Homo sapiens: one gene and its partner. The protein of the gene in region 2 purifies or fractionates together with the protein of the main gene of each other region. This does not show direct contact. Each region holds a gene or a part of one and is shown on either strand. Other genes may lie near its edges.

Region 1 (3,744 bases), on a different chromosome or scaffold from region 2:
TTCTCCCCTTGTCCCTTAATTCCACTTTCTCTTTCTTGTCCCTTAATTCCACTTTCTCTTTCCTTCTCCCACCTCCCGTCCTATAATCTCCCACTTAAGGTAGCTGCCTTCATTTCTTAGAGGGAGCTGCAGAATTATTTTATAAAACTAAAGAAAGAATTTCAAGGGATTCTAGGGGTCATTAGGATCCTCACAGATTATTTTTGGTTGGGGAGTTGAAACTTTTTAAAGGCATATAATTCTAGTTACCTGTGTCTGTTAGCTTTGTGCATTTATTTTTTATTTATCCTTCTTTTGGCTTTTTTTTCTTTGTACCCCTTCTTTTCCTCCTTGTTTGGTAGGAGCTTCAAATATTCTTTTTTTTTCTATACTAAAGGATTTGTTTCCATTTGTGTAATTGGCTGTGTACTTTTCTTTTCTAAAAAAAGTTTTTGGTTAGGGATTTGGTTTTTGGTTTTGTGTTTGTTTTTTCTTTCCTCTCTCAGAAAAAAAAATTTCATGCTTTAAATAAAATCCAAAGACACACCCTTTCACTGCTGATGCAGAAAAAAGGGAAAGGGTTCTTGTTACTTGAGAATTTGTTTCTGATTTAAACAAACAAGACTTAGTTTAATAAAAGAAAGAGAAAAACAAAAGATTCCCAGGTTGTTATGTGCTTCTTCTGCAAGCAGAGAGGCAAATGTTAATGACAATTCCATATACCAAAAGACACATTTTTTACTTCAAAGTTTTGTCCTTGTGTTAGGCAGTCTGAGCAGCGAGTGATCCAGAGCGCAGCCAACAAAGCAGCAGATAGCAGTGTACAGAAAGCAAAAAAGGAACTGTATGTGAGGCACTTGTTTCTGTTAATATCCATATTCCTGTTAACACACACCCTTTCTCATGTAAAAAGAAAAATAAATAAATGGTCTGAACTTTGAAAACTTTGTGCTGCTAAAACATAGATTTTGGAGACAAATAAATAGATGCTTTGCTGTTTCACTTTCATAGCTAAACATCAACAGAAACCATCTCCCCTTGCCCCCAAAGTGTGAAATCCTTCTTCCCTTCGTTTTCTTCCTTATGTTTCAAAAGGGAACTTTGAAGACTGTGAATACAGGTTCCATTGGTCACCTTTCGGGCTTCTTTCCCCAGTGCTGAAGCCACTCATCGACTTTGCAAAAGACTGGAGCATTCCAAGATCTGAAAATGGATTTTTTTTCTTTTTTTCTTTTTTAGCCGGGACTATTTTATTTTTATGAATTTGTTTTTAGTTTAATGAAATAGTAGATCCTGAAATGTTGTACATATTTCTAACTAGGCTGATGCACAGTGCAAATTCCTTTTTTAATTGTTTTTTTTAAGTAGAAATACTAAAGAAAGAATACCATCTAACTATTCATACCAGTATCCAGTTGTAGCATAAGGTGTCAAAAGCAAGTACGCAAAACATTTACTGTTTTAACAAGCTATTTCCTTTTAACAAGAAATCTTGTATTTCTTCCTGTGTTTGAGATGAACATTTTTAAATTTTAAAGTTGTACAGTTTTTTGTTTTCCATTATTTTATCTTGTTTGTAACTCTATGAAATATATATATATATATTTTTTGCCATTTAACTGTTGTATGTTACTCTGTGTCTGTACCATATAGAAAAAAAATTGTTTTTGTTTTTGGTTCTCTATGTGATATCAGTTAACAATGTAACACTAGCTTTACCTGTCAAATTCTGCTAGGTCTTCTCTGAAAACGTTGTTTTTAAAAATGATATTGCTTGGTAATAGTGCAATTTCTATCCTTTTCCCTCCCCCCTCAACTTTTAAGTTCTTTTCTTTATAATTTTGCTGCCCCCTCCCTGATGGTTTGGGTTTTTGTTTTTGTTTTTGTTTTTTTTTTTCATGGAGCTACTATGCCATCCTCCCTCTGTGAGGCAGAGTGACTGTCAGTGTTTTGTTATGCCATGCCTTGAGCTGTGGGTGTTTGGCGACAATAAGGTGGTTGAATAGATTGGCTGAGCACACTTCCACCCACCTAGTGTTCTCAGAGGGGTTATGTGATTGTTTCAACCTGGAGTGGGTTGCACCCTTAATGCTTTCCTCTGCAACTAAACCGCCCACATATATGTTCATTGAAAAAAGTAAGAATAATTCTCAGCACTAACCCAGAAGTAGCAAAGCAGTCAGTGATGGTGAACATTAGAGGTCAAACATGAGTTAGATGTTTGTGGGCTGACAGCCATCGTGGCTATGACCAGTACTATTTACAAAGCATGAATTCACTACAATGCTCAACTGTTTGTTTAGCTTTATCTCACTTGGGGAATTTATTCCTGTCTGCTGCATTGTAGGTAGCTGGGTAGGATATATTTCCACTTGCTTTTTAAATTAGTTCTTCACCTCCATTGACACTCGTTTTTTGGTTTTCTCCCTATAGTGTGGGTTGGTGCTAGACACCAGTCTGACCCACAGAATGGGAGTTATTTCATCCATCTTTCCTCCATCCTTCCAAAAACCACATATCTACACAAGGAAAAATTTAATACATCTAGGAATTTTTTTTTTAATTACAAGCTATTTAAAGAGATGAATGTGGCCAAAGTTTTACACAATTGAAAATAAAGTAAAACAGACGGCATGTGTTTAAACCTGAGTTTATCAGGCATGGCAGGAAGTTGCAGGAGAGAGAGGCAGTGACCCAAGCCAGTGCACTTGATGTTCATGGACATATATTTTTTTTAAATAATAAATTAAAACATTTTAAATAGAAGCATAAATTGAGTTGTTTGTTGGCGCTGAGATACTGCCCACTGTGAAACAAAGCTTTGACTAGTTTTTTGTTTGTTTACTTTCTTCAGGGGGGAGGGGGGCAAGTTTGGGTAGGAAAGAAAGCATAAATGAACGTGACCCTGAGGTGAAGAGGTATATGAACAGCCTTTGCAATGTACAAAAAGAAAAAAAAACAAAAAACAACAAAAAAAATAGAGCAAGTGAAACCAAAAATGATGTTCTTGGTGTTTTTCTATAATGTAGTCTTGTTAGCTTTTTTGTTACTGTAACAATGCTGATCTCGAACTGTACCAAAATACATGGAGACTAACAAACAGAACCACATGGAACTTTCAAACTGAAAAAAAAATTTGTCACAAAAACTTTGTTGTCATAGTTAAGTTGATTGTAGATGGTAATTGAATATACTCCTTTGAAAATATTTCATCAAGTATGTTTCCTGCTCATTGTGATACATTAAAAAAAAAATATGAGCAAAAGCTCCTGTCTCTGTTACCACATTTGTGCACATGCATGTGTGTGTGCAGGAGAGAGAGGCTGATGGCTGGCAAAGTATAAATGTGAATACCTTGAGGTTGTGTGTGCAGGGAGTACTTATCCCAAGGTACAAAAGGATGTACACGAGCCCTTTAGTGTTTCTAAAGACGCTTGTATTTCCCATCTCCTGGGGCTCATGAATGTCAGAAGTTTGGGCCATGATGCCGTCTGCGTTTCTTCATTGGGAGGGGTGAGTCTGATATCTTGGACGATATTTGGCCCTAGAGTGCCCTAATAGCAACTAGATTTTTAATTCAAATATTTATATGAAAGTTTTTGATGCTTGACACAATTGCAGGCAAAAAAGTTTTACTGATTGATAGCCATGAGAAAGGTAGGTTCAACTTTTTTGAAATGGGAATTGGATCTAGTGTTTATGACAGAAAGATATGAACGGTAAGTTGAACTAATGGATAACTGACTACATTTACCTGTCCTAGCA
Region 2 (2,990 bases):
AAATTTATTTTTTTAATTTAAGATTTCTGAATTATTTTATCTTAAATTGTGATTTTAAACGAGCTATTATGGTACGGAACTTTTTTTAATGAGGAATTTCATGATGATTTAGGAATTTTCTCTCTTGGAAAAGGCTTCCCCTGTGATGAAAATGATGTGCCAGCTAAAATTGTGTGCCATTTAAAAACTGAAAATATTTTAAAATTATTTGTCTATATTCTAAATTGAGCTTTGGATCAAACTTTAGGCCAGGACCAGCTCATGCGTTCTCATTCTTCCTTTTCTCACTCTTTCTCTCATCACTCACCTCTGTATTCATTCTGTTGTTTGGGATAGAAAAATCATAAAGAGCCAACCCATCTCAGAACGTTGTGGATTGAGAGAGACACTACATGACTCCAAGTATATGAGAAAAGGACAGAGCTCTAATTGATAACTCTGTAGTTCAAAAGGAAAAGAGTATGCCCAATTCTCTCTACATGACATATTGAGATTTTTTTTAATCAACTTTTAAGATAGTGATGTTCTGTTCTAAACTGTTCTGTTTTAGTGAAGGTAGATTTTTATAAAACAAGCATGGGGATTCTTTTCTAAGGTAATATTAATGAGAAGGGAAAAAAGTATCTTTAACAGCTCTTTGTTGAAGCCTGTGGTAGCACATTATGTTTATAATTGCACATGTGCACATAATCTATTATGATCCAATGCAAATACAGCTCCAAAAATATTAAATGTATATATATTTTAAAATGCCTGAGGAAATACATTTTTCTTAATAAACTGAAGAGTCTCAGTATGGCTATTAAAATAATTATTAGCCTCCTGTTGTGTGGCTGCAAAACATCACAAAGTGACCGGTCTTGAGACCTGTGAACTGCTGCCCTGTTTAGTAAATAAAATTAATGCATTTCTAGAGGGGGAATATCTGCCATCCAGTGGTGGAAATGTGGAGTAAAGAAGCTGGTGGTCTGCTTCTGTGCTGTATGCCAGCCTTTTGCCTTAAGTTGAGAGGAGGTCAACTTTAGCTACTGTCTTTGGTTTGAGAGCCATGGCAAAAAAAAAAAAAGAAAAAAAGATCAAGTCGTCTTTGGTGAGCCAGTAAGGTGAAAGCTTGCTGACTGTCCAAGGCACAAGAGAAAATTGAGGAATTGAAATGCAACCTGAGTATCAAACTAAATATTCTAATCAAAGGTAGGTACTGTTAGGTGGAATTCTATCAGCAGGCAACTGCAAATGAGAAGAAGATAGAAGGACGCCCGTCGGGACTTTGGAGGGCATTGTTATTTTCCCAAAGAAAGACGGCCAAGGGCAGAGGCATGGATTCTTTGCAGAGCACTTCCTTTTGGTTTTTCAGTACTGTTTCATAGACAGTGGGCTCACATGTTCCTGATAGTGCTGCAGTTGCTTAGAAAGCATCCCAGTTAATTGCAGTAATTAGAACTTCTGGAATATGCTAGGGCAGAAGTATGTCAAGTATGTCACATGAAGAAAATGTGAAATTCAAGAGTAATCCACACGTGAGAAACTAGACAATGTACATTCATGTGTTCTCTTGAAAGGAAAGGGAGAGCTGTAAGCTTCACTCTGTCCTACACCGGAGAAAAGCAGGAATAACTTTACCGTGGAAATAATGTTTAGCTTTTATCAGAGAAAATTGTCCTTCTAGAGCATAGAGTCCCAAAACTCAATTCTGGTTTTCCCCTGTTTTTTTTTTTTTTTTTTTTCCCAACATATAAACTGCAGCATATCACTTTTTCTTTTTGTGCCTCAGGTTCCTCAGCTGTAAAATTGAAAAATATATGTATTAATAATATTATTAATAATAATAATGGTAATGTAGTACTTGTTTGTAAAGCACTTTGAGATCCTTGGTTGAAAGGCACCATAGGAGTGCCAAGTATTATTATGTGGCCAAGGGGGTTATTTAAACTGTCAGTTCCCAAAGGCCAGGAAAGGTTGGGGTCATTTTTCTTAAAGACGAGCTGTAAATATCAACTAGGCAGCCAATAGTGTTGACTATGAAGATGCAAAACTATTACTAGGCTGATAAAATCATAGTTTCTTAATGGCTACCAATAAGGCAAATATCACAATAATAAACGCCAAATTCCTTAGGGCGGACTATTTGACAACCACATGGAAAACTTTGGGGGAGGCATGAGGGGGGAACATCTCAAAATGCCAATGTAAAATTTAACTTACAGCAATATTCACCAGCAGAAAATGTCTTTCATATGGAATGATTTCATGTTGCTAAGAAAAAGAATTCAATTTGTAGTCCTGATTTGAATACTAGAATGTTGGCTATAATAGTTCTGTTCTTACAACACATGAAATTTTTTCGTTTTATTTTATTTTGTTTTCATAGTGCATGTTCATTTCTACTCACAAACATGTTCTTGGTGTATTTCTTATGCAAACAATCTTCAGGCAGCAAAGATGTCTGTTACATCTAAACTTGAATAATAAAGTTTTACCACCAGTTACACATAACGGCGTTGGTATGGTTTATATGGATTCACTTTCATCCTTCTAGCAATAGGAAATACAGATCATTGTAATATATATATATATATATATATATATATATATATATATATATATATATATATATACAGGCTCTGCTGAATTGAAATGGTGAAATCAAATCACCATTCTAAAAAATTATTACTTATATTGATAAAGCCTGGACTCTCTCAACTTGTTGTGCTTTGATTTTTTTTCTTAAACAAACACTCTCTCACTGATATATTTTGTGTAAAAAGATATATACTACTTTCTCCAGAGAGATAACATAAAAATGTGTTTATTTCAAAAACATTCAGTTGAGTATCAAATATTGAGTGTCGAGTATTGGGTAATGATTATGTTACGATGTGTAAAAACTCCTGCTTATGAAGTTTAACTTTGAATTCGGTATACTCATGTGAACATGATGCAATTCCTAATCAATCATCTCAAAAAGTTTAAATTAATATATCAAATATCTT

Evidence for each region. Proteins that work in one complex are often made in the same cells at the same time.
Region 1: the proteins of TRPS1 (region 2) and ZFHX3 purify together in Homo sapiens (affinity purification with mass spectrometry; one large-scale study listed by BioGRID and IntAct). This does not show direct contact.

What each region holds. Positions count from the first base shown.
Region 1 is NC_000016.10:72,782,385-72,786,128, reverse strand, and holds the end of ZFHX3 (zinc finger homeobox protein 3), read left to right. Parts: 3' UTR 1-3,244; downstream 3,245-3,744.
Region 2 is NC_000008.11:115,407,996-115,410,985, reverse strand, and holds the end of TRPS1 (zinc finger transcription factor Trps1), read left to right. Parts: 3' UTR 1-2,490; downstream 2,491-2,990. UniProt on the Homo sapiens protein: Transcriptional repressor. Binds specifically to GATA sequences and represses expression of GATA-regulated genes at selected sites and stages in vertebrate development. Regulates chondrocyte proliferation and differentiation.